Linked DNA regions of Homo sapiens. The protein of the gene in region 3 purifies or fractionates together with the protein of the main gene of each other region. This does not show direct contact. Each region holds a gene or a part of one and is shown on either strand. Other genes may lie near its edges.

Region 1 (3,500 bases), about 66 Mb from region 3:
TTTTTCTTTTCCTGGCATATTTTTTCCTCTAACAAGTCAGAGATTTGTTGCATGTTACTTGCTGCAATAGAGCAAATAAGGAATACTACTTTGCCTCTGTCTCATTACAGCTGTCCCCAATCTCTTCATGCTGGAAACAGTGGATTCTGTGAAGTTGGCAGACAAAGTGAACAGTTCCTGGCAGAGAAAAGGTTCTCCTGAAAGGTTAAAGGTTATGGTCCAGATTAACACCAGCGGAGAAGAGAGTAAGTAACCAGACCTGAATTGTAGATTTTTCTTCCTTTAGGATGGTTGAAGCTTAGGGAGAATGGGTGGGCCCAAGTGTCTGATGGATAAGGTTATAGAAACAAATCACAGGATCACAGGCCTCTAAGTTGGCTGTTTTATGTGTGATCTAGGTAGCATAATGGCATGCAAAGCAGTCTATGTATCATTCTTTACTACATCATGGTTCATTATATCTTAATTTTAGGGGAAGAAGAATGGATGGGGAGTTCAAGAAGGGGATTGTGACTTCGTTTTGTATTTTTGTTTTTTTTTTGAGATGGAGTCTTGCTATGTCGCCCAGGCTGGAGTGCAATGGTGCGATCTCGGCTCACTGCAACCTCCGCCTCCCGGGTTGAAGCAATTCTCCCACCTCAGCCTCCCAAGTAGCTGGGACTACAGGCGTGCACCACCACGCCTGGCTAATTTTTGTATTTGTAATAGCGATGGGGTTTCACCATATTGGCCAGACTGCTCTCGAGCTCATGACCTCTCAAGTGATCCACCCATCTCGGCCTCCCAAAGTGCTGGGATTACAGGCGTGAGCCACCACACTCAGCCTTTTTTTTTTTTTTTTTTGAGACAGAGCCTCACTCTGTCGCCAGGCTGGAGTGCAGTGGCACGATCTCAGCTCACTGCAACCTCCGCCTCCTGGGTTGAAGCGATTCTCCTGCCTCAGCCTCCCGAGTAGCTGGGATTACAGGCACGCGCTACCACGCCCAGCTAATATTTGTATTTTTAGTAGAGACGGAGTTTCGCCATATTGGTCAGGCTGGTCTTGAACTCTTGACCTCAGGTGATCCACCCACCTCAGCCTCCCAAAGTGCTGAGATTAAAGACATGAGCCACTGCACCCGGCCTGGGATTGTGTCTTTCATCTGGAAACCCCCAAAGGTCACCATCACTCCTACAAGGAGTATTTTAAATTTTTAAGACCTAAGATTATATAAATACTCTTAGATCTTAAAAAAATTACTTGATGTTGCATTGGGAGAGAATGGAAGATAATTACTGTGAGTGGGCCAGGTGCGGTGGCTTACACCTGTAATCCCAGCACTTGGGAAGGCTGAGGCAGGTGGATCACCTGAGGTCAGAAATTCGATACCAGCCTAGCCAACATGATGAAACTTCATCTCTACCATACATACAAAAATTAGCCAGGCATGATGGTGTGCACCCATAGCCCCAGCTGCTCGGGATGCTGAGGCAGGAGGATCCCTCGAACCCAGGAGGTGAATATTGCAGTGATCCGAGATCGCGCCACTGCACTCCAGCCTGGGCGACAGAGTTAGACTCCATCTCAAAAAAAAATAAATAAATAAAAAATTATGGTGAGCACCAGTCAATGAATATCTTTATGGGGCTTGGATTAACAGTGTAACATAGTGTGAATAGAAGCATGGGCTTTGAAATCAGACAGACCTTGGGTTTCAGCTACACTACTTTCCAGTATTGTAACCTTGGATAAGTTACCTAATCTCTCTGTACTTCAGTTTCCTTTTTTGGCAATGGTATCATGAGAATGCTTACTTCAGAGGGTGTGGTTAGGACTGAATATGATAATCCAGGCAACATTGTTAGCACAGAACCCTACACATGTTGTTAGCTATTCGTTAAGAATAAATGTATACAGATCAGGCATTTGATTGCAACCATCAAAGCACCAGTATTCACCAAATCTTAGTATGCAGGAACACAGTAGAGGCATCTGTTTTCTAGATAACGTCCTAGAGTCAGACTACCTGGGTTTAAATCCCAATTATCAATAGAAATCTGAAATCAACTATAGGTCAAGTCTTTATTGTATCATTTCTTGATAATTAGCTATAATATGCCCTATTTAAAGACTGAAGTAAATGTTACTAGTATCTCCGCCTAATAAATGGGGGCAAGACAATATCAATAGCTCTTATAACTGTATAACAAATAATTGCTTGCTGCAGATTTCTCTTCCAGTTGTTAATTAGAAAGTTCAGTTAAACTTTGCTAATATATAGCCAAAAATATTTAACATGTACTTTATACTAAATTTTTTGCAACTCCATTAAATTAATAAAACTATAAAAATTCTTGATTTAGAAAAGTAATTCTCAGGTTCATCTGGCATTTTGGCAATGCAAATCTTCCTGGTATCCCAAAAAAGCAAGATTTTTTCTTTTCCATGTCTCCTAGCTGTTTTCAGCTGAAATCCTGAGATGGAGGAAAGAGAATCCAACTGATAGTTCTTTTCTTGAGAAATTTAGAACCTGACCAGAAGCAGAGCAACATAGAAAACCCCAAGTATAAAGTTACTCTTTAGGACTTGAGGCTCTTTCAAGAGGTTCTCTTGTTGGGGGTCACCTCTTCTGTCGTAAGGAAGGGAGGAAAATGGAGCCTTCCTCTGGCCATTTACCCTTGCAGTATACCTGTTTTCTGTTTCTTTTCTTGAAGGTAAACATGGCCTTCCACCTTCAGAGACCATAGCCATCGTGGAGCACATAAACGCCAAGTGTCCTAACCTGGAGTTTGTGGGGCTGATGACCATAGGAAGCTTTGGGCATGATCTTAGTCAAGGACCAAATCCAGACTTCCAGGTACTGGGGGGTCGGGGAGATTGCTCGTGTGCTAAAGAAGCAGGGTGCTGGAGTGCTATTGCAGGGCTGGCTGCAGTGGGGATTGCAGAGTCATCCCAGACACTGCCTGTTGAGTGTTCTAGCCCTCTTTTGAACTCTTCTCAGAAGGAAAAGGGAAGAACAGGTTTCCAAAGCCCCACAAACCTTTTTCAACTCAACTTGAACTTGGCTAAAACATAGTCTTTAGAGAATATGAGATTTCTTCCTCTCCAGTGACTAATAGTTTTCTCGAAAGTGGGATAGTTTGCAAAAAACCCTTTCAGTAACGTCTGGCAATTTTGGCAGGCCTTGAAATCATAAGGAATACATAACCGTTGTCAGAGAAGTTCAGATTCAGACACTTTTGGGCATCGTTAGAGAAGGCAGGAGTAAAATAGGTGTCATCTCTTTCTGTCAGCTGTTATTGTCCCTCCGGGAGGAGCTGTGTAAAAAGCTGAACATCCCTGCTGACCAGGTTGAGCTGAGCATGGGCATGTCCGCGGATTTCCAGCATGCGGTGAGTGTCCTGCCAGTGCCCTGTCTGCCTCGAGGGGTGGGGGTAGGGGGTCTGAGAGGCTGACACAAGAGCAGATCTTTGCTGTAGAAGCCTTGGAAATGCCTTGGGATGGCAGTAAGGTACCCAGT
Region 2 (3,500 bases), on a different chromosome or scaffold from region 3:
TGGCCCCTAGATATCTAGGGCGTTTTAGATTCCATCAGTGCTACAAGGCTGGCAAGACAGAAGCCAGTTCCTAGGGCAGCTCTTAGAAAAGTTGGAATGTTAGATACACAAGCCAAGTTTTTCCTTCCCCAAGGAGTGGTGGGGAGCTGCAGGTGTTCTTATGATCATATGGTGCTGTATTGGGGGTACATAATTGCTCTCGCAGATTATGGCAAGAGGGTGTCTCCAGTCTTCTACCAGGTTTGATGTTGTTCATTTCGTACTTGTGCAGGTGCAGAAGCATTGCACCTAGTTTCAGGATTTCTCACAAAGGGAATTCGTATATTATCGTTGAATCAGTGTGTTCATGTGGGGAAGGAGGGTTTAGGGCGTCCTATTCTTCCATCTTGCTGATGTCAACCTGTTACTTATTTTTCCTAAATTGGAAAAATGTAAATAAAATACTCATTTTGGAAACAAAATTATCTGACTTTAGTGGCTCTTTGAACTGGGTTTGAGAAGTACAGACAAACTCAACACTCTTATCTTAACATTAAAGTAGATATCTCAAGTCCCCTTTTAATACTTTTAGCTTGGAATACTTTCTAGTCTGTAGGGATAATTAATTTCTTTTTCTATTTCTGCATATCAAATATTGCTTTAAAGATTCCCTTCAGCTGTGTTACTTAGAGATTGAATAGGGAAATATTTTGTCTTTTGATTAACAGTTTTAGGCTAAAAAAATTAGATAAGTATGCCTTTGGTTTGTGTAGCAGACAAACTTCATGTTAGATAATTCGTGAATTTGTAGTCCATTCAAATGTTTATCTTCCAGTTTTCAGAGGGGTTTTTTGTTTGTGTTAGAATTCTTTCAAGTCATTTTATATTTTTATGAATTATTTGAGAAGAATACTTGTTAATCTCAGCCTGTATTTTTATTGTGAATGTGATTACCTATTATTGAGGGGCATAGTCCTCTGGGTGTTTCTAATTCAGCATCAAATAATTATTTCTTTATAGATACATATGTTACATACATATTTTACACATAAGCACACACACATCTTGCATATATAGATATGTATTTATATGTGTATAAACATGAATAATATTTATGTTTGTTATATACATTTATCTTGTATATTCCTGTTTATATACATATAAACATGTATATCCATATCTGTGCAGTAGTGTATAAAGTACCTTGAATTCTTTTCAACTTAGAATACTCAGAGGTCTTAAGGAATTATATTTCTTTAAATATTGAATAAGATTTACTTGAATTTAAAATTTTTTATTTTGCTAACATTTGGAAATGCTTTAATGGTATTTGTTAAGAAATGATGTAGCATGGTTGTTGACTAGCATGCAGTGTTCTATTAATATATTTGCCTTTTGGGGTTTCACAATTACACTATTATAAATCTTTTTGAGAGTACATTTTAGTCAGTATAGTATATATATTTTTTCTTAGTTTTAATCAAAAATAAAATCATTGGGAAATATAACCACTTGTTTTCCAGTTACTTATTATAGAAAGAATAAGTTAAGAAATGTGAATAAATTGAACAAATTAATAAAATATTTGTTAATAATCCACCTTATGGAGGATTTAAAAATAATTTTAATTATAAAATAATGTATTTTAATATAGTTCAGAAATAAAAGTGTTGCTCCCTCTCCACTATCAGATACCTCAGGTACATTCTTAGGGTAGTTAACAGCTTCTTAAATAGCTTCTCAGATATGTTCTGTGCATATACAAGTATATACGTATGAGTATGTATATGAGTGTATGATGGAATTGTACATACACAAGATCTACATATATTCTTTTAAAAAGTACTAATGTACTTTTATATTGTACTTTTATAAGGTATTGTGTTTTATAAGGTATATGAATTAAATATATTGTCCATATACATTGAGAAAATTGGGTAAATTGATGTGCATAATAAACATGTCATCTCTTTATGTTTATTTGAAGTTTTTTTCTGATTGTTCTAGTGGCATAGAAGTAAAGTTTCTTTAATACAGTTTAATAACATTATATTTTAAAACTTTATGAAAACAGAATTTTTAATTTGTGTAAAAGATTTTACCCTTAATACATGTTCTTAATATCCATCATACTGAAAATAGTGGGCTATCTTTGGTTAGCAGGGTTATTGTGAATGTTGTATATGGGAAGGGCAGGCATTCTGTTATTTCAGTACTGTGATACCATGTTGTTTGAGGTGGGTCTTTTTCTAAGCAATGGGCATGTTCTACTTTTATTAAAGTGATGATAGAAAATGACTTTAAAGCATGTAGTGACATAAAGTTGTTAGGAGATATAACTAATGCTAAATGACGAGTTAATGGGTACAGCACACCAACATGGCACATGTATACGTATGTAACAAACCTGCACGTTGTGCACATGTACCCTAAAACTTAAAGTATAATTATAATAGAATTAAAAAAAAATAAAGTAGTAGTTTTTAAAAAATCCTCAAAACTGAGCTCATTGTGTGGTTTTACTAATTTTGGTTTTAGGCTTGTGCAGACATAAGAGCCAGTTCAGTGTTTTGGCAGCAAATGGAGTTCGTTGATAGCCTGCATGGCCAACCCAAGATGCCAGAATGGTTATCTACACACCCTTCTCATGGCAATCGAGTTGAGTACTTGGATAGACTTATACCTCAGGTGAGCTGACACCGTAGAAGGCGGGACATTATTTTTACTGTATCATTTATTTTTAATGCTGTCACTTCTTTTGCTTAGTAAAAGAGAGTTCTAGCCTATTAACTATTTTGATTACTATAATTATGGATTATCAGTTGTCACAGAATTTGACTGAAAAGCAAAATTCTGCTTGTCCACAAGTCTTGGAGAATAAATTACTATGTACAGTTGACTTTTCTTAATAGTGAAGGTTTAACTCCTTTAGTATGAGACTTTAATTTTAACTGACTTGATGAAAGTTTAAAACTCAAGGCATATTAAGTTTTTTAAACATGTTGATGATAATTTAATCTTTCCTTGGTGATTTAAGCTTTTTGTTAAAAATACCAGTTAATGAGTTGTACAGAAGTTTTGGGTCAAGTGGATATTAATTGTAGTAGTGGTACTGGAATTTGTTTTTTTAGGAAAAAAAATCTTCATGTTTGTTTCTGGTTATTTATTTCTTTATGAAGATAAGAGTGAAGCATTTGCTCTCTGGCTTTTCTTTCTGTAGAATTCATAAGTGGGTCAAGCTGAGGCGGCTTTCTGCCAAGTAGTTTTCAGTATCCTCTGAAAATCTTTTGATTTGTTGACATCATTCAGAATGTTTTTATGGTTTCCATATCAGGACAAAATGGATGTTAGGCATCTCTGAGCCACGTTACACGCTCTCTTCTATCTCACTTGTATTAAATTTGGTGGCTTGTTATGAAAGCGGAACATTTTTTAGCAATTTAAGAATTGGTACTGGGCCATGTGCTAAGGCATAGCACAACAGATCCAGGTGTATTATAGAAGTATCTTTCTCATGCCTG
Region 3 (3,485 bases):
ATATTTGCTGTCGCAGCAACATACCCATATCAAGTCGTAAGAGCTCGTCTTCAGGATCAACACATGTTTTACAGTGGTGTAATAGATGTAATCACAAAGACATGGAGGTGAGAGCACGTGCTATATCAAAAATTGCTTTGACAAGGTACCTTGCATATCTTAGACCATCCTGTTGATACTAGTTTTATAGCAAAGGCCAGTTTGCTGTGGTGAAAACATGATTGGTGGTCCCTGCTTTCCCAGTTATTACGTATGTGACCATGGCCTTAATCTCTCTGAGACTTAATTTCTTCATTTGTAAAGTAAGACTTTCTAACTAATAGGTTGTTATAAGAATCAAATTAAATGTGTGAAAATGTTTTGGAAAATAAAATTTAGGTGTTATAAAATATCTGAATGGTATTGAATATAAGAAGTCATAAGACTAGCTTAATACATTCAAGAAGGCTCCACACCTGCTACTGGCACCATAACTTTTGCAAATACTTGTTTCCATATATGAAAGAGATGTTTGTTCTTCAGTATGAGACTAGTTAAATTATTATAGGCAGACATCACCATATTTCCCTTTAATTCTAAAGGAACAGAGGAGAACATTTAGGATGTTTAAATTTAATTCAATTCAAGAAATATTTAATGAGCACCTAAGTGACAAATTTCTAGGCCGTATTCCATATTATTGGCATTAAGGAAATAAAGTTTTATATTTGTATGTGCTGTATTTAATGTTGGCTAGCATTTATCCAAGCTATGAGGTTTTTTAATGCCTACATTAGGTCAATTAAAACTCCTGCTTGTACATACATTTAAAAGCATTTGAAAGATAGCTAATTGAAAGCACTTTTTAGTTCAGTTTTGAGGTGTCCCTACCCTCTCTTACTCAGTCCATCCATAAAAGGAATGTAAATCCCTACAGATGGCTTATAAACTACATTACTTTAGGACATTGAAAACATGAACTTAAATCAGAGTAAGGTTTGACTGCTGCTTGCTCCATGCCTTGTGTCAGTTAGAACTTCCGTGTTTTCAAGCTAGCTCTATACAAAATTAAGCATTATCTATTTTTCCCTCTAAAGGAAAGAAGGCGTCGGTGGATTTTACAAGGGAATTGCTCCTAATTTGATTAGAGTGACTCCAGCCTGCTGTATTACCTTTGTGGTATATGAAAACGTCTCACATTTTTTACTTGACCTTAGAGAAAAGAGAAAGTAAGCTCAAAGAGGACAATTCCAGTATATCTGCCCAAGGCAGCAACAAGCTCTTTTGTGTTTAAGGCATAAAAGAAGAATTCTGCATAGAAACATGGCTCATATTCGAAATTGCTCTATAGTCATTAGAAGCCAGAGAACTGCTAAGTCTCCTGCAATGTTTTTCTTGCTTTTTGCCTTCCCCATATATATGGAACTTGGCTACCTCTGCCTGAAATGGCTGCCATCAACACAATGTTAAAACTGACACGAAGGATAGAGTTTCACAGATTTCTACGTTTTATTGGTGGAAGCTGATTTGCAACATTTGCTAAATGGATTAGATGAATGTACTTCTTTTTGTGAGCTTACTTGCCTGGATTGCTTTAAAATTAACCTTTGTGCAATACCAAGAAAATAGCTCTTTAAAAGAATGTCTTTGTATGTCTCAAGGTAAATTAAGGATTTACTGAATAAGGTGTTGACCAAATCCAGACCATTTTATTTTATTTTTTTATTTATTTATTTTTTGAGATGGAGTCTTGCTTTGTCGCCCAGGCTGGAGTGCAGTGGCGTGATCTCAGCTCACTGCAACCTCCACCTCCCGGGTTCACGCCATTCTCCTGCCTCAGCCTCCTGAGTAGCTGGGACTACAGGCACCTGCCACCACGCCTGGCTAACTTTTTTTTATATTTTGAGTAGAAATGGGGTTTCACCATGTTAGCCAGGATGGTCTCAATCTCCTGACCTTGTGATCCGCCTGCCTTGGCCTCCCAAAGTGCTGGGATTACAGGCGTGAGCCACTGCGCCTGGCCAGACCATTTTAGAATTGGGAAATTTTAGTGAGAAAAAATGCACTGTAAATATGCTTTAGTTTTAATTCAGTTGGGATGCACTACCTAGCGAAAATTGAGAAACTATATACTTCTCAGAGAAATATCTGACATCTATTGTCATTCCATTGCTATTTTTTTTCCCCAGAGACTTCCATAATTTAAAATAAAATCCTAGATCCAGTTCTTGTTTTTTGGCATAAATACTTAATCTATTTTAAATTTATAAAATCTGAGCTTCTAGGATCCAGCTGTGTCAACCTTTATTTAGCATATATAACTATAAATCACTTATTACAGATGCTAAATAGATCACCTTTTACAGATGCTGAAATGTTTGGGATATGTTTGTTGACAAGGTAAATGGAAATGAGAAACTTTATACTTCAGTTTTCAGATATATGGATCTAGATCCCAAATAAATGATTAATCTTCATTGGTTTCTCAAATTCAGGTTGAAATACAAATTAATAGCCTTTATTGATTTTACTTTTATGAGTCATTGTAGACATCTATAAATATAAAAGGGCCTGTACCCAAAGGATGCCAGAATACTAGTATTTTTATTTATCGTAAACATCCACGAGTGCTGTTGCACTACCATCTATTTGTTGTAAATAAAAGTGTTGTTTTCAAAGCCATCTTTAAATAGTTCTTTAAAAATAGGTCTTTTTTTTATATTTTGGAAAAGGCATTGTTTTTAAAGTAAAGATAAAATGGTAAGTACCTAATTGTATTTACTGTAATATCTTATAACATGCAGATGAATGCTTTATAAGTTAAATATGATGTATTTTTTCATACTTCTGGATTATACTATAATTCATATGAAATCTTGATATTAGTCCCCACACGGAAAAAGTGAACTGCAGTTGATATTTGGTGTTTAAGATAGCACCATTGTTTAAATACCGCCTATGTACTCCCAAATGAATAAAACATAATTCTTGTCCTCTGAGAGCATACAAGCTTGTGTGATAGATAAATATGCATTAAATAATTACAGCTATAGATTAAGAACTCGTAAGGAATATCTCACAAAGCCTGGTAAGAGTTCTGACAGAAGAGAACTCAATTTCAGTCATTCAACAACAAATAGTCACTCAACTCCTGCTCTTTGGCAGGTACGTCACCAAGCACTGAGGATATAGCAATAAATAAGCCAGACAATATTCCTGCCCTCAGGGAATTTTCATCTTGGTGTAAGTGACAGAAAAGGAAATATATGCATAATGTAATTTCAGGTATTTAATGCTATAAATAAAACTACAGCAGAACGGGGGAATAGTGTTGCTATCTTAGGTAGTATGGTTGGGGTCAGGAAAGGTCTCTGAGATAGTATTTGGAACATTTTGAAAGAAGTGAGGAAGCGAGCCACAGTGAGAGGAAACACATTCTAGGCAGAGAGGACAGGAAGTAAAAAGGGCCTGAGGGAGGAATTAAGTTGGCTAGAGGGGATGGGTGA
Region 4 (3,500 bases), on a different chromosome or scaffold from region 3:
TTCTTGAAATAGAAAAGGAGATTTTGTAATGGTATTAATCAGGGGCCTCTAGCAACTCAGCAGTGATGGCTTCCTATCTGCATTAAAGTAAGTCAGGTAAATACTTGGAGGTGTGTTGTAACCTATAGGCCTGACTTTTCAGCTTACTCTAACTTGATTTTTATTTTAGGTTTGGCCTTTGCTTCAGGTTTAGCAGCCACTGTAACTATTACCCATCTTTTAAAAGCAGGAGACCAAATTATTTGTATGGATGATGTGTATGGAGGTAGGTGACCCCTCTCATTTATATTCTGTAAACTTGTATTTTACAGATAATAAAGTGAGCCCTGAATTAATATTAACAATGTTGCCAGTATTTTTGATTATTTATTATAGTTTACAGGTGTGACAGGTACCTCTATGCTCTCTCAGACTTGGGAAAAGAGGAGCATAAACACTTAGGGTCCATGTTCTGGAACTGCTTATAAGAGAGATTATTTATTTATTTATTTGTTTATTTTTAGATAGGATCTCACTCTGTCACCCGGGTTGGAGTGGAGTGGTACGATCTCAGCTCACTGCAGTCTCCGCCTCCTGGGTTCAAATGGTTCTCATGCCCTAGCCTCCTGAATAGCTGGGACCCCAGGCGCATGCCACCACACCTGACTAATTTTTGTATTTTTTGTAGAGACGGGGTTTCGTTGTGTTGGTCAGGCTGGTCTGGAACTCCTGAGCTCAAGTGATCCTCCCTCTCCAGCCTCCCAAAGTTTTGGAATTACGGGCGCGAGCCGCCTCACCTGGCCAGAGATTATTTACTAAGAATAGTATTTAAGGTGCTAGAATGAATACGTAGCACTTGATCAACTTGCAGACATATTCTGCTCTAGAGAAGATAAGGTTTAGAGAGACAGTGTTCTCCTGTAACTTAATTTTTACCTGTAATAAAGATGAAATACAACTCAGGTTACTCTCAAGAGTTCAACCCCACACATCCCCTTTTGCTTTTTATTTTTTGTTTGGCACCAGGGAAACTTTCAAAAATTTGTTGAGAGATATGGGCCTCTTTTCCCAAAAAATGTTCTTAAGACTACACTGAGTGATTAGCATTTTAATTTTAGGGGTCTCATGGATTGAACCGCTGAAGCCCATCTATGGCTCTAAATTTAAGAACTTCCCATTAACTCTTCATTTAGCATTAGGTATATCTCCTAATGCTATCCCTCCCCCCTCCCCCCACCCCACAACAGTCCCTGGTGTGTGATGTTCCCCTTCCTGTGTCCATGTGTTCTCATTGTTCAATTCCCACCTATGAGTAAGAACATGTGGTGTTTGGTTTTTTGTCCTTGTGATAGTTTGCTGAGAATGATAGTTTCCAGCTTCATCCCTGTCCCTACAAAGGACATGAACTCATCCTTTTTTATGGCTGCATAGTATTCCATGTGTATATGTGCCACATTTTCTTAATCCAGTCTATCACTGTTGGACATTTGGGTTGGTTCCAAGTCTTTGCTATTGCGAATAGTGCCGCAATAAACATACATGTGCATGTGTCTTTATAGCAGCATGATTTATAATCCTTTGGGTATATACCCAGTAATGGGATGGCTGGGTCAAATGGTATTTCTAGTTCTAGATCCCTGAGGAATCACCACACTGACTTCTACAATGGTTGAACTAGTTTACAGTCCCACCAACAGTGTAAAAGTGTTCCTATTTCTCCACAACCTCTCCAGCACCTGTTGTTTCCTGACTTTTTAATGATCGCCATTCTAACTGGTGTGAGATGGTATCTCACTGTGGTTTTGATTTGCATTTCTCTGATGGCCAGTGATGATAAGCATATACCTAACGCTAAATGATGAGTTAATGGGTGTAGCACACCAACATGGCACATGTATACATATGTAACAAACCTGCATGTTGTGCACATGTACCCTAAAACTTAAAGTATAATAAAAAAAATTTAAGAACTTCCATTCCAAAGAAATTAAATGTTAGCTATTTAAAGTGGTGAATGTGGAGAAGACAGGCTTGCCCTTGCCTTTAAGCCCACTGATTTTTGTATTTAAAACAAAAGCAAGGAATTTTGTGAATATACATATACATATATTCCAGATGCTTCCAAATAATTAAAATGTGATTTCTAGAATATTATCATTTTATCTATTTCCTATCTGAACAAAAAGTTAAATCACTAAGTCCTTTAAAACAGCAGTTCCCAACCTTTTTGGCACCAGGGACCGGCGTGTTTTTTTTTTTTTTTTTGAGGTGGAGTCTTGCTCTGTTGCCAGGCTGGAGTGCAGTGGCACGATCTCGGCTCACTGCAACCTCCGCTTCCCGGGTTCAAGCGATTCTCCTGTCTCAGCCTCCCGAGTAGCTGGGATTACAGGCATGTGCCACCACGCCTGGCTAACTTTGTGTTTTTAGTAGAGCCAGGGTTTCTCCTTGTTGGTCAGGCTGGTCTCAAACTCCCGACCTTAGGTGATCCACCTGCCTCGGCCTCCCAAAGTGCTAGGATTACAGATGTGAGTCACTCGTGCCCGGCCTCAGGGACTGGTTTTGTAGAATACAATTTTTCCAGGGACAGGGGGATGGTTCCAGGATGAAACTGTTCCACCTCAGATCATCAGGCACTATTTAGATTCTCATAAGGAGCATGCAATCTAGATCCCTCGAAAGTTAGATTCTCATAAGGAGTGCACAACCTAGATCCTTCCCATGAGCAATTCACAGTAGGTTTCCTCCTGTGAGAATCTGATGCTGCCGCTGATTTGACAGGAGACTGAGCTCAGGGAGTCATATTGCTTACCCGCTGCTCACCTCCTGCTGTGTAGCTGGATTCCTAACAGGCCACAAACCTGTACCTGTCTGTGGCCTGGGTTGGGGACCCCTGCTTTAAAGGAAGGGACTTACTCTTAGTAATCATTTTATCCCTCAGAAATTTGCACAATGTTTCGTATTTTATCTTAGTTTCTTATATTAGCTTGTTGAGTTGAAATTATAGAAATCTGAAACCTTTAGATACTTTTATAATGCAATATAAAAGTCTCATGGCAAACATAGGTATAAAATCCTGAAAATTGTTGATTTTAAAGAACTTTTTACATTATTTTTCAATTTTATATTACCTAGGGTCAGTCTACATACCATCAAAAGTCTAGTTTCTCATTAATGACAGAATATTCTTTTGTTGTTGTTGTTGTTATTGAGTATCAATATCAATTTTTTCTTTAAGTTTTTATGTGTAAAAATCAAATCTAGGTGTATTTATAAAAAATTATTTTAAGTCAAATGATTTACCTTGTTTCACTGTAAAAATCTGGTAGTTTGATTTATATTGTCTCATTTTATCGATTAAAACTTTCAGAACTACATAACAAAAAGATCAAAAAAGTACAAAGAATAGTAACCAATTCTTTTCCATTACAAAGTATATTGAAATTTATTTTGAACCTTTCATTGACATTGATTCATTTAGTTTAGAGTTGAGAACTAGGTAGAAATTGTTTGAAAAGATATGA
Region 5 (3,500 bases), on a different chromosome or scaffold from region 3:
CCAAGCTGCTGCCTCTGCGGGCTCTGCCTCTGCTCTTCAACCTGATCAAGGTAACATCCCGATCAAGGTAACCCCCCAACCTGCTCCTTCCCTCCCCAGCACCCCAAGCCGCCCACGCCCCCACATGGTTCCCTGTTCACCCCTTGCTCCTCTCCCAGCAGGAAACTGCTGCTTCCTGCAAAGGTATGAATCTTCTCCCTGGATCTGGTTTCAGCTCTGAGCATTTTGGCTTTTAGTGGGATTGCAGAGAGAGAAGCCACAAGGCTGGGGAAGGCTTGGTGGCTGGGGAAGGGAACCTGGGGACGTGGGGACTTTAATAATAATGCTACATGGATTCCTAAAAATGGTTTCCTTTTTGTGTCTTTCCTCCTAGGAGGCAGGCCTATCCTCTGCTTTGCAGGTCCAGAAACTCGATTGTGTCTGCTCCTCCAGAGGTGATTAGGCTCTGAGAGTGATGACTCATCCTAACTAAATCACCAGAGACGGGTTTATAAAGCAGATGCCATTTTATTCATTTATACTAGGAAGATAAATGGCATTGGTAATTGGCTTAGGGGAGTCATCATGAGGGCAGGTCCACTCCAGAAACCAAATTACAGACCTGAGGACTGTGCTGTGAGTGGCACAGCTGAGCGAGGTCTTTGAGGGCTGGAAGGAGCCACTCTGTGTGATGTGTGCCAGGCGCGTTATCAGTGTTCATCCTTTTGTTTTTCACATTACTCCTGGAAAGGAAATACTATTATGATCCCTTTTATAGATGAATAAACTGAGGCTCAGAGAGGTAAAGTAACTTGTCCAAGATCACTCAAATAGTAAGTTTAAAAGCCCAGGGCTTTGTGATTCTGAATCCTGTGCTCTTTCTGCCAAACTATACTGGTGCATTACGGATATGTCTGTCGAGCTGTGGGACCTTGCTAGGTAACCTTTGTTTTCTCTAGGAATGTTTCAGCAACGCATTTTGAGGAGGCAGAGTGCTGGTTAGTGCTGGCAGAATTTCAACACTTTTTAAAAATTTAAATGTATTTTTATTTTTATTTTTTGAGACAGAGTCTTACTCTGTTGCCCAGGCCTAGAGTGCAGTGGTGCAATCATAGCTCACTGCAGCTTCGACCTTCTGGGCTCAAGCAATCCTCCCACCTCAACTTCACTGAGTAGCTGGGACCTCAGGCATGTGCCACCATCCCCAGCTAATTTTTAAAATTTTAATTTTGTAGCCGGGTGCAGTGGCTCACGCCTGTAATCCCAGCACTTTGAGAGGCGAGGCAGGTAGATCACCTGAGGTCAGGAGTTTGAGACCAACCTGGCCAACATGGTTAACCAAGTGTGGTGCCGGGTGCCTGTAATCCCAGCTACTTGGGAGGCTGAGACGGGAGAATTGCTTGAGCCTGGGAGGCAGAGGTTGCAGTGAGCCAAGATTGCGCCACTGCACTCCAGCCTGAGCAACAGAGACTCCCTCTCAAAAATAAAAAAATAATAATAACAAAATTAAATTAAATTAAAAAATAAAAAATTTTTAATTTTGTAGAGATGGGGTCTCACTAGTGATCCTCTCACTTTGGCCTCCCAAAGTGCTGGGCTACAGGTGTGAACCACTGTGCCCAGCCAACTTTTTATTTTTATAGGCACCAAAGCATAAGGGCTAAGAACAGGGATTTGGTAACTCAGCTATTTGAGTTCAAATCCAGGCTCTGCTACTTATTAGCTGTGAGACTTTGGACAGGTTACTTAGTTCTGTGCCTCAGATTCCTTATCTGTGAAATGGAGATAATACTAGAACTTATATCACTGGCCTAATATGAAGATGAAATGAACTCATCCTCAGGGTCTAGGACATGGTAAGTGCTATTTAATTGTTTTTTGTTTGTTTGTTTTTTTGAGATGGAGTCTCGCTCTGTCGCCCAGGCTGGAGTGCAGTGGCACCGTCTCTGCTCACTGCAACCTCCACCTCCCGGATTTAAGTGATTCTCCCAGCTCAGCCTCCCAAGTAGCTGGGACTACAGGCACCTGCCACCATGCCCGGCTTATTTTTGTATTTTTAGTAGAGACAGGGTTTCTCCATGTTGGCCAGACTGGTCTTGAACTCCTGACCTCAGGTGATCCACCCACCTCAGCCTCCCACAGTGCTGGGATTACAGGAGTGAGCCACCACGCCCGGCCTATGCTGTTTAATTGTTTGTCACACATAGAAACAGACTTAGTTCCAGACCAGCCTGGCCAACATGGTGAAACCCCATCTCTACTAAAAATACAAAAATTAGCCGGGTGTGGTGGCACGTGTCTGTAATCCCAGCTACTCGGGAGGCTGAGGCAGGAGAATCTCTTGAGCCCAGGAAGTGGAGGTTGCAGTGAGCTGAGATCGCGCCACTGTACTCCAGCCTGGGTGACAGAGCGAGACTCTGTCTCACAAAAAAAAAAAAAGAAAAAAGAAAGAAACAAAGAAACAGGCTCGGGCAGCCCACCCCTTCTCACACATCACCTCCGACAGGAGGTCACAGCTGCTGCTGAGGCCACCCCGCCTTGAGGATGTGCCTGCCGGACCTGAGTTGCAACGAGAGGCTGCAGTCTCCCGAGGGGATTCAGAAAGCCCCCAGTTATTGAAAACCCAGCAGAATTGTCAGCCCTGCACCCCCAAGCCCTCTTGGAGGGAGGGTTGCCCTGGCAGAGCACTGAGCCCATCTGTTTATTCACCATCCTGTGGATTCAGCTTCACAGGGTGACATATTCTGTCACAGGTTGGTGTTGGAGAAGGGGCACTATCACCTCTATGAGAGTAACCTCACATATAAACATGAAAACAAGCCAGGTGCAGTGGGGCACACTTGTAGTCACAGCTGTCAGGAGGCCAAGGCAGGAGGATCGCTTGAGCCTAAGAGTTAAAGGCTACAGTGAGCTATGATCACACCACTGCACTCCAGCCTAGGTGACACAGCAAGACTCTGTCTCTAAACAAATAAAAATTAAAACATTAAAAAGTAAAAAAAACCCAGATGTTAAAGGACGTGCCACAAAACAACGTCATGGTTTGTTGCCAGAGGAATGACCCTTCTTCCCTTTCAGAACCATTGCAGGAATGGGGGAAGATATCACAAACCCCCAACATTTATTTCTTTGTCAGATATTTGAGTGCCTGCTGTGTGCCAGGCAATGTGTTAGAATCTGAGGAAATGTCAGTTAACAAAACTACAGGTTTCAGCCCTTTCTGATCTAGTCTGAGCTCCTCTCCCAGAAGGAAACTGCTACTTCCTGCACAGTTTGAGCACAAAAATATCAATGTAACCATATAAGGAAAAATTACAGCAAATGCCTGGGAAGAAGGAGCCCCAGATGCCATGAAAGTGTATAGTGGGGGAACTGGTCTGCGGGGTCAGGAGAGCCTCTTTGTGGAAGGGCATGTCGTCTGACCCTTGTAGCATTAGCCAAAGGAAGAAGTTGGGGGAGGGGAAATGCCCCAGGAAAGGGCAGCACCCTGGAGGCTTTTTTTTTTTTTTTTTCTCTTGAGA
Region 6 (3,500 bases), on a different chromosome or scaffold from region 3:
AGTAGCTGGGACTACAGGCCCCCGCCACCATGCCCGGCTAATTTTTTGTAGTTTTAGTAGAGATGGGGTTTCAGCTTGTTAGCCAGGTGGTCTCGATCTCCTGACCTCGTCATCTGCCCGCCTCGGTCTCCTGAACTGCTGGGATTACAGGCGTGAGCCACTGCGCCTGGCCACTAAAGTGTGTATTATAAAAACAATACAGCAAACACAATTTAGAAAGTTAAACTTTTTTTTTTTTTTTTTTTTTTTTTAGTAGAGACGTGGTCTTGCTATGTTGCCCAGGCTGGTTTTGAACTTCTGAGCTCAAGCAATCTGCCTGCCTTGGCCTCCCAAAGTGCTAGGATTACAGGTGTGAGCCACCACACCCAGCCTAAACTTTTGTTTTGTTTTGTTTTTTGAGACGGAATCTTGCTCTGTTGCCCAGGCTGGAGTGCATTGGCGCAGTCTTGGCTCATTGCAACCTCTGCCTCCTTGGTTCAAGTGATTCTCCTGCCTGAGCCTCCCGAGTAGCTGGGATTACAGGTGCCTGCTACCACTCCTGGCTAATTTTTTTTGTATTTTTAGTCCCGAGTAGCTGGGATTACAGGTGTCTGCCACCACGCCTGGCTAATTTTTTTCTATTTTTGGTAGGGATGGGGTTTCACCATGTTGGCCAGGCTCGTCTCAAACTCCTGATCTCGTGATCCCCCCACCTTGGCCTCCCAAAGTGCTGGGATTACCGGTGTGAGCCACCACACCTGGCCCTAGACTAAATGTCTTGCCAATTGTGACACAAATATTTTTATGCTAAGGGTGAAGTTTATTGTTAATTTAAGTCCACATTTGTAATTTTTGCTGAGAATAAAAACAAAGAGGCCTAAACCCAAAGCCTTCTTTGGGTTTAGAGAAGGTTTCCTTGCAGGAGTGTCAGTTTTAGCTGAAGATGTGAAGAATCAGGAGGAATTAGCTCAGGAGAGACTAGGGACAGGCATTCTAGTGCAGGGAAACATGGTGAAGGCTGTAAGGTGGGAAGGAGCAGGGTAAATTCCTGGTATGGCAAGAGTACCAGTGTGCCTGCACACAAGAGCGTGATGGAGAGAAGGGGCAAGATACGGCTAGAGAGGTACACAGAAGCTTGGTCGCTGCGGGCCTGCTTAGATTTTTGCACTCTGCTCTGAGAACAGTTGGCCGTAACTGAAGGGTTTCCACCAAACAGAATGACGTGAGATTTATACATACAGTGAAATTCACCCTCTAAGTGGCCAGCTCAATGAGTTTTAACAAATGTGTGCACCTTGGGGGGGTGCAGTGGCATACACCTGTAATCTCAGCTACTTGGGAAGCTGAGGTAGGAGGATTACATGAGCCCAGGAGTTCAAGAGCAGCCTGTGCAACATAGTAAAACACCATCTTTAAATAAATAAATAGATAGATTAGATAGGTAGATAGATTGATTTTAAAAACCAAAGAACAAATGTATACACCTATGCACCGTTCACCACTGTCAGGAAAATACAACATTTTTATCATCCCCCAGAAGTTCCCTTCTGCCTTTTTGTAGTCATTCCCCACCTGCCCTTGCTCCAGACAGCCGATCATCTTCCTATTACTGCAGATTAGTTTTGCCTATTCCGGAAAGTCATATAAATGCAGTCTTTGATGTCTGGCTTCTTTCAGCGTAGTATCTGGGGTTTATCTATGTTGTTGGTCATGTCAGCCATTCTTCTTTTCTATTGTTGAGTAGTGTTCAATTGTATGGAAATGCCAAATTTTGTTTACCCATTCATCTATTGGTGGAAATTTGTGTTGTTTCCAGTTTTAGGCTATTAGGAATAAAGTTAAGAGCATCTGTAAGCCTTTGTGTGGACGTGTTTTCCTTACTCTTGCGTAAATACCTAGGAAAACAGCCACTGTGTTGTATAATAACTGAGTGTTTAACTTTTAAGAAACTACCAAACTTTTCCAAAGCGGGTACATTTTCACTTCTACCATCAATGTACAAAGATTCTAATTGTTCTACACCTTCCTCAGTATTTGATATTGTCAGTCTTTATAATTCTAGCTGTACCAGTGAGTATACAGTGATCTCTCTTTGTGGTTTAATTTGCATTTCTCTAGTGACTAATGAAGTCGGTCATTTTTTATTTTTTGAGACGGAGTCTCGCTCTGTCACCCAGGCTGGAGTGCACCTCGGCTCACTGCACCTCCGCCTTCTGGGTTCAAGCAATTCTCCTGCCTCAGCCTCCCGAGTAGCCGGGACTATAGGCACACACCACCATGCCTGGCTAATTTTTGCATCTTTAGTAGAGACGGGTTTTCACCATGTTGGCCAGGCTGGTCTCAAACTCCTGATCTCAAGTGATCTGCCTGCCCCAGCCTCCCAGAGTGCTGGGATACAGGCATGAGCCATCACACCCAGCCAAAGCTGGGCATTTTTTAATGTGCTTATTGGACATTGGTATATCTTCTGTAGTAAGGTATTCAAATCTTTTGCCCCTTTTTATAGGAGTGTTGGCTTTACAGAATTGTAAGGTTTTTTAAAAATATATTTCATTTTAAGTGAGTTTTAGATTTTGACGCTATGCTTCACTTTGAATCTTTGTGTATGGTGTGAAAAGACCTGGTTTGTTTTTGTCTTTTTTTTTTCCTATGTGGCTGTTCATTTACTTCTGCACTGTTTGTTGAAAAGACTGTCCTTTCCCCACTAGACTACCTTGGCACCTCGGGTGGAAATCAGTTGTCCATATAATTGTAGGTCTGCCTCTGGGCTCTGTATCCTTTCACCAGTGCCTGAAGACCAAATATCTTGATTACTGCAGCTTTGAGTAGGCTTGAAATCTAGTCACATGAGTCCTCCAGCTTTGCTCTTCTTTTTCAGAATGACTTTGGCTACATCCTTTGCATCTTCATATACATTTTAGAATCTGCTTGGGTTTTTTTTTTTTTTTTTTTTGAGACAGTGTCTCACTCTGTTGCCCAGGCTGGAGTGCAGTGGTGCAATCTTGGCCCACTGCAGCCTCGACCTCCCTGGGCTCAGGTGATCCTCTCACCTCAACCTCCCGAGTAGCTGGGACTACAGATGCGAACCACTATGCCCAGCTAATTTTTGTATTTTTTATAGAGATGGGGTTTTGCCGTGTTGCCCAAGCTGGTCTCGAACTCCTGGGCTCAAGTGATTTGCCTGCCTCAGCCTCCCTAAGTGCTGGGATTACAGGCGTGAGCCACCACACTCGGTGAATCTGCTTGTTTTTTCACACAACAAAACCTACTGAGATTTTGATTGAGATAGATTTTGTGTGTGTGTAAAAATGTGCTGTTTTTATGGTTAATGAAATGACAGTGGTGAGACTGATACAGAAAGACCCGTTAAGGAGACCTGACAAACATCCAAATGACAGAGGGTAGTAGCATCAATGAGGGCGGCTGAGTAGAAAATAAGTGGGTGGATTTGAGAGAGATTGAAAAAGTGAGCCAAAGCTGATTGCTGATCTTTAACTGGTGGCTACCTTAGAACCATAGTC
Region 7 (3,500 bases), on a different chromosome or scaffold from region 3:
TCACCACTTTTTTTAAGTTTTTAAGTCAATGTTACATAATGAAGAAAATTTGTGGTTTTTTTCCAAGCACAAAATTATATGTACACTATTGTTTAAATTAAGGTGTGTGTGCATACGTGTGTGTGTGTGTGCGTGCATGGGTGCAGACAGTGGCTAAGAGCCCAGACTCTACAGCCAGACAGAAGTCTGAATCTGGCTCTGTCATTTACTTTGTCAGCTTGGACAGCTTACTTCACTTTTCTATGACTGAGTTTCCTCATCTACAAAATAGGAGTAATAATCCTGCCTGTCTCATATGGTCATTGTGAGGATTAAATGAGTAAATACATGTGAAACCACTTTTAGCGTATGTGCCACTGACTAGGTGTCAGGTGCTATTATTATTGTTAATATTATTTAAAGTATTACATAAAATTTCTAGTTGTGTTAAAATATATTTACTTAGAATACATTTAAAAATCAAGCCTATTTGGTGGTTAGTGTATGAAATAAATTGTGTGTGTGTGTGTGTGTCTCTGTGTGTGTCTCTGTGTGTGTGTGTGATGGAGTCTCATTCTGTCGCCCAGGCTGGAGTGCAGTGGCACAATGTCGGCTCACCGCAACCTCTGCCTCCCGGGTTCAAGCGATTCTCCTGCCTCAGTCTTCTGAGTAGCTGGGATTACAGGTTCCTGCCAGCACGCCCGGCAAATTTTTGTATTTTTAGTAGACACGAGGTTTCACCATGTTGGTCAGGCTGGTCTCAAACACCTGACCTCGGGTGATCTACCTGCCTCAGCCTCCCAAAGTGCTGGGATTACAGGAGTGAGCCACCGTGCCCAGACTTGAAATAAAATTTAATATCTTTTTTTTGGGTGGGGGTGGGGGGAGATGGGGTCTCACTCTGTTGCCCAGGCAGAAGTGCAGTGGTGTGAACATGATTCACTGTAGCCTCAACCTCGTGGGCTCAAGCAGTTCTCCCTCCTTGACCTCCCAAAGTGCTGGGATTACAGATGTGAACCACTGCACCCAGCCTAAAATTTAGTATCTTTTTTTTTTTTTTTTTTTTTTGAGACGGAGTCTCGCTCTGTCGCCCAGGCTGGAGTGCAGTGGCGCATTCTCAGCTCACTGCAAGCTCCGCCTCCCTGGTTCAAGCCATTCTTCTGCCTCAGCCTCCCGAGTAGCTGGGACCACAGGCGCCCGCCACCATGCCCGGCTAATTTTTTGTATTTTTTAGTAGAGACGGGGTTTCACCGTGTTAGCCAGGATGGTCTCGATCTCCTGACCTCGTGATCTGCCCGCCTTGGCCTCCCAAAGAGCTGGGATTACAGGCTTGAGCCACTGTGCCCGGCTTAAAATTTAGTATCTTTTAGTGATTGCTAGATCTCTTTGTCAGTGAGTTAATTAATCTAATGGGCTGATAGCAGCTGAGGATGTCCCCAAGAATACTTGTTAGCTAAGAGAAGAAAATGGAGGGATATATGTGATACTTGTTTTCTTTGATGCTGTTGTAATTCTTGTGATTTTCATATATGTGAATACAAGACTTCCACACCATGCCCTTTCTTTCGGTATCTGTAAAATTTAGAAGCTTTAAAATGTATAATGTACATTTGTTACATTTCTGAACCTTTTTGCTCATGCTCTTTGTTCCCTGATGTAGAATGTTCTTTTCTGTCCGTCAAGGCCCAACCTGAATGTTGTCATTAAATGTCAGGCCTTTCCTCAGTCTTCTTAGTCATAATCATAAAGCCCTTCCATTCTGTAGCACTTTTTATTTCTACTAGTGTTCTTATTGAACAACATGTTGAAACAATTATAAACATTTGTGCCCTCCACTTTATGGCAATCCCATGAGATGGAGCCCCTGATTTTTGTGTCTTCCACATTACCTACCACAATCCTTTGTACACTGCTTAGTTGTTCATTGGATATCTTCAAAAAACAGCCCCTATCCTGCCTGTCTGAAAACTAGAATTATAGGAGAGCCTGCTATGATAGTTCATGTAGATAATACATATTAATGGTCTCTGGAAAGATTCTAAATATTTATAATGTGTTGGTTTATATTAACTAGTTAAGTAAAGTAATAAACCCCAAGTGTGTTGGTCTGTATTCTGCATTAGGGACTGAGAAATATATAGATGAAAATGCATTGTTTCTGTCTTTGATCAGCTGTCAGTCTTGTGGGAAAATGATGGATAAACAGATCATTGCAGTGTACTTTAGCAACCACCATACATAATGGAGGTTCAAAAGGGACAGCAGCAGTGTAGAGGAAGCTTAAGTCTGCCTCTGCTTGGGAAATTCACAGGGTAGTATACTTAGAGGGATTTGAAGGAAGAGTGTGTTTTGCCAGCTGTTCAAGTTGGAGAAAGCATTCTGGGCAGGACAAACAGTGTATGCAAAGGCATGGAGGAGTAAGGAGGAGTAAGAGAGCCTGCCAAGTCAAGAGAGTGTGATTGGTCAGTATTTCTGGAGCAAGCTAACATGGCTTTAAATGAATATAGGAATCATTTTCTAAAAAGTGCTCTTCAGCTACATTATATTTGGAGATTAACTATTTGACAATTAATGGAACAACTGTTGAAAGCTTTTGTATGTATTTTGCTTTACATAAAACTCTAGATTAATTGACTAAGAATTTTCTATTCTAAATTGTGGTGGCTCACACCTTTAATCTCAGCACCTTGGGAGGCTGAGGGAGGATTGCTTGAGCCCAGGAGTTCAAGACCAGCCTGGGCAACACAGCAAGACTTTGTCTCTACAAAAAATTTAAAAACTAGCTAGGCATGGTAGCATGTGCCTGTGTTCCCAGCTACTTGGGAGGCTAGGTGGGAGGATCGCTTGAGCCCAGGAGGTCAAGGCTGTAGTGAACTATGATTGTGACACTGCACTCCAGCCTGGGCAACAGAGCAAGACCCTGTCTCCCTGACCCCACAAAAAGAAATAAATACATTGTTAATTTGATTTTTCTAATTTAAAATGTTGGAAGAATATTTTGGTATGTGAGTTTATATGTATATATGAACAGAAATATAGTCTGTTGATAGAAGTGTCACATAATTTGTTGCTCAGATAGATTGTTTCTACTTGTTTTTTTGTCAGTGATTGAGAGCATGGGCTTTGTAGTCAGGCCTAGTTGAGATTCCTGCTCCGTCACTTGCCTCAAGAGCCCTAATTTTCTCACAGAATTTGAGTATTAAATGGGAAAATGCTTGTAAAGCACTTAGTATGATGCTTGGTATGTGTATGCCTACAGTAAATAATAGCTCTGAAGTACTTCTTTTTAGCACTAAAAGCTCCACCATAATGCTGGTTCCAGTTAATTGAATTATTTGGCTAACAAGAACATCCTTTTAGTTCTCTGAAGTGTATCAAGGCACTTTCCCTACATTATGACCTAGAGCATAGAGAAAAGAGTTATATTTTCATCAATGATTTAAGATCCTGTAGTCCCTTATGGCAGTAATTTAAAACATCAGTTCTTGTAGAGAACTGTCATCTGGAAAATTGGGCTGGAA

What was found.
Region 1: the proteins of SLC25A32 (region 3) and PLPBP purify together in Homo sapiens (affinity purification with mass spectrometry; 2 studies listed by BioGRID and IntAct, with this or other methods). This does not show direct contact.
Region 2: the proteins of SLC25A32 (region 3) and OMA1 purify together in Homo sapiens (affinity purification with mass spectrometry; one large-scale study listed by BioGRID and IntAct). This does not show direct contact.
Region 4: the proteins of SLC25A32 (region 3) and CTH purify together in Homo sapiens (affinity purification with mass spectrometry; 3 studies listed by BioGRID and IntAct, with this or other methods). This does not show direct contact.
Region 5: the proteins of SLC25A32 (region 3) and NLRX1 purify together in Homo sapiens (affinity purification with mass spectrometry; one large-scale study listed by BioGRID and IntAct). This does not show direct contact.
Region 6: the proteins of SLC25A32 (region 3) and LAP3 purify together in Homo sapiens (affinity purification with mass spectrometry; one large-scale study listed by BioGRID and IntAct). This does not show direct contact.
Region 7: the proteins of SLC25A32 (region 3) and CBFB purify together in Homo sapiens (affinity purification with mass spectrometry; 2 studies listed by BioGRID and IntAct, with this or other methods). This does not show direct contact.

What each region holds. Positions count from the first base shown.
Region 1 is NC_000008.11:37,772,645-37,776,144, forward strand, and holds part of PLPBP (pyridoxal phosphate homeostasis protein), read left to right. Parts: intron 1-110; coding exon 111-245; intron 246-2,664; coding exon of another isoform or gene 2,665-2,694; coding exon 2,695-2,837; intron 2,838-3,273; coding exon 3,274-3,372; intron 3,373-3,500. UniProt on the Homo sapiens protein: Pyridoxal 5'-phosphate (PLP)-binding protein, which may be involved in intracellular homeostatic regulation of pyridoxal 5'-phosphate (PLP), the active form of vitamin B6.
Region 2 is NC_000001.11:58,505,227-58,508,726, reverse strand, and holds part of OMA1 (metalloendopeptidase OMA1, mitochondrial precursor), read left to right. Parts: intron 1-2,517; coding exon 2,518-2,667; intron 2,668-3,500. UniProt on the Homo sapiens protein: Metalloprotease that is part of the quality control system in the inner membrane of mitochondria. Activated in response to various mitochondrial stress, leading to the proteolytic cleavage of target proteins, such as OPA1, UQCC3 and DELE1.
Region 3 is NC_000008.11:103,398,138-103,401,622, reverse strand, and holds the end of SLC25A32 (solute carrier family 25 member 32), read left to right. Parts: coding exon 1-107; intron 108-1,076; coding exon 1,077-1,212; 3' UTR 1,213-2,985; downstream 2,986-3,485. UniProt on the Homo sapiens protein: Facilitates flavin adenine dinucleotide (FAD) translocation across the mitochondrial inner membrane into the mitochondrial matrix where it acts as a redox cofactor to assist flavoenzyme activities in fundamental metabolic processes including fatty acid beta-oxidation, amino acid and choline metabolism as well as mitochondrial electron transportation.
Region 4 is NC_000001.11:70,417,768-70,421,267, forward strand, and holds part of CTH (cystathionine gamma-lyase), read left to right. Parts: intron 1-169; coding exon 170-265; intron 266-3,500. UniProt on the Homo sapiens protein: Catalyzes the last step in the trans-sulfuration pathway from L-methionine to L-cysteine in a pyridoxal-5'-phosphate (PLP)-dependent manner, which consists on cleaving the L,L-cystathionine molecule into L-cysteine, ammonia and 2-oxobutanoate.
Region 5 is NC_000011.10:119,175,225-119,178,724, forward strand, and holds part of NLRX1 (NLR family member X1 isoform 1 precursor), read left to right. Parts: coding exon 1-50; intron 51-3,500.
Region 6 is NC_000004.12:17,590,698-17,594,197, forward strand, and holds part of LAP3 (cytosol aminopeptidase), read left to right. Parts: intron 1-3,500. UniProt on the Homo sapiens protein: Cytosolic metallopeptidase that catalyzes the removal of unsubstituted N-terminal hydrophobic amino acids from various peptides.
Region 7 is NC_000016.10:67,084,649-67,088,148, forward strand, and holds part of CBFB (core-binding factor subunit beta), read left to right. Parts: intron 1-3,500. UniProt on the Homo sapiens protein: Forms the heterodimeric complex core-binding factor (CBF) with RUNX family proteins (RUNX1, RUNX2, and RUNX3).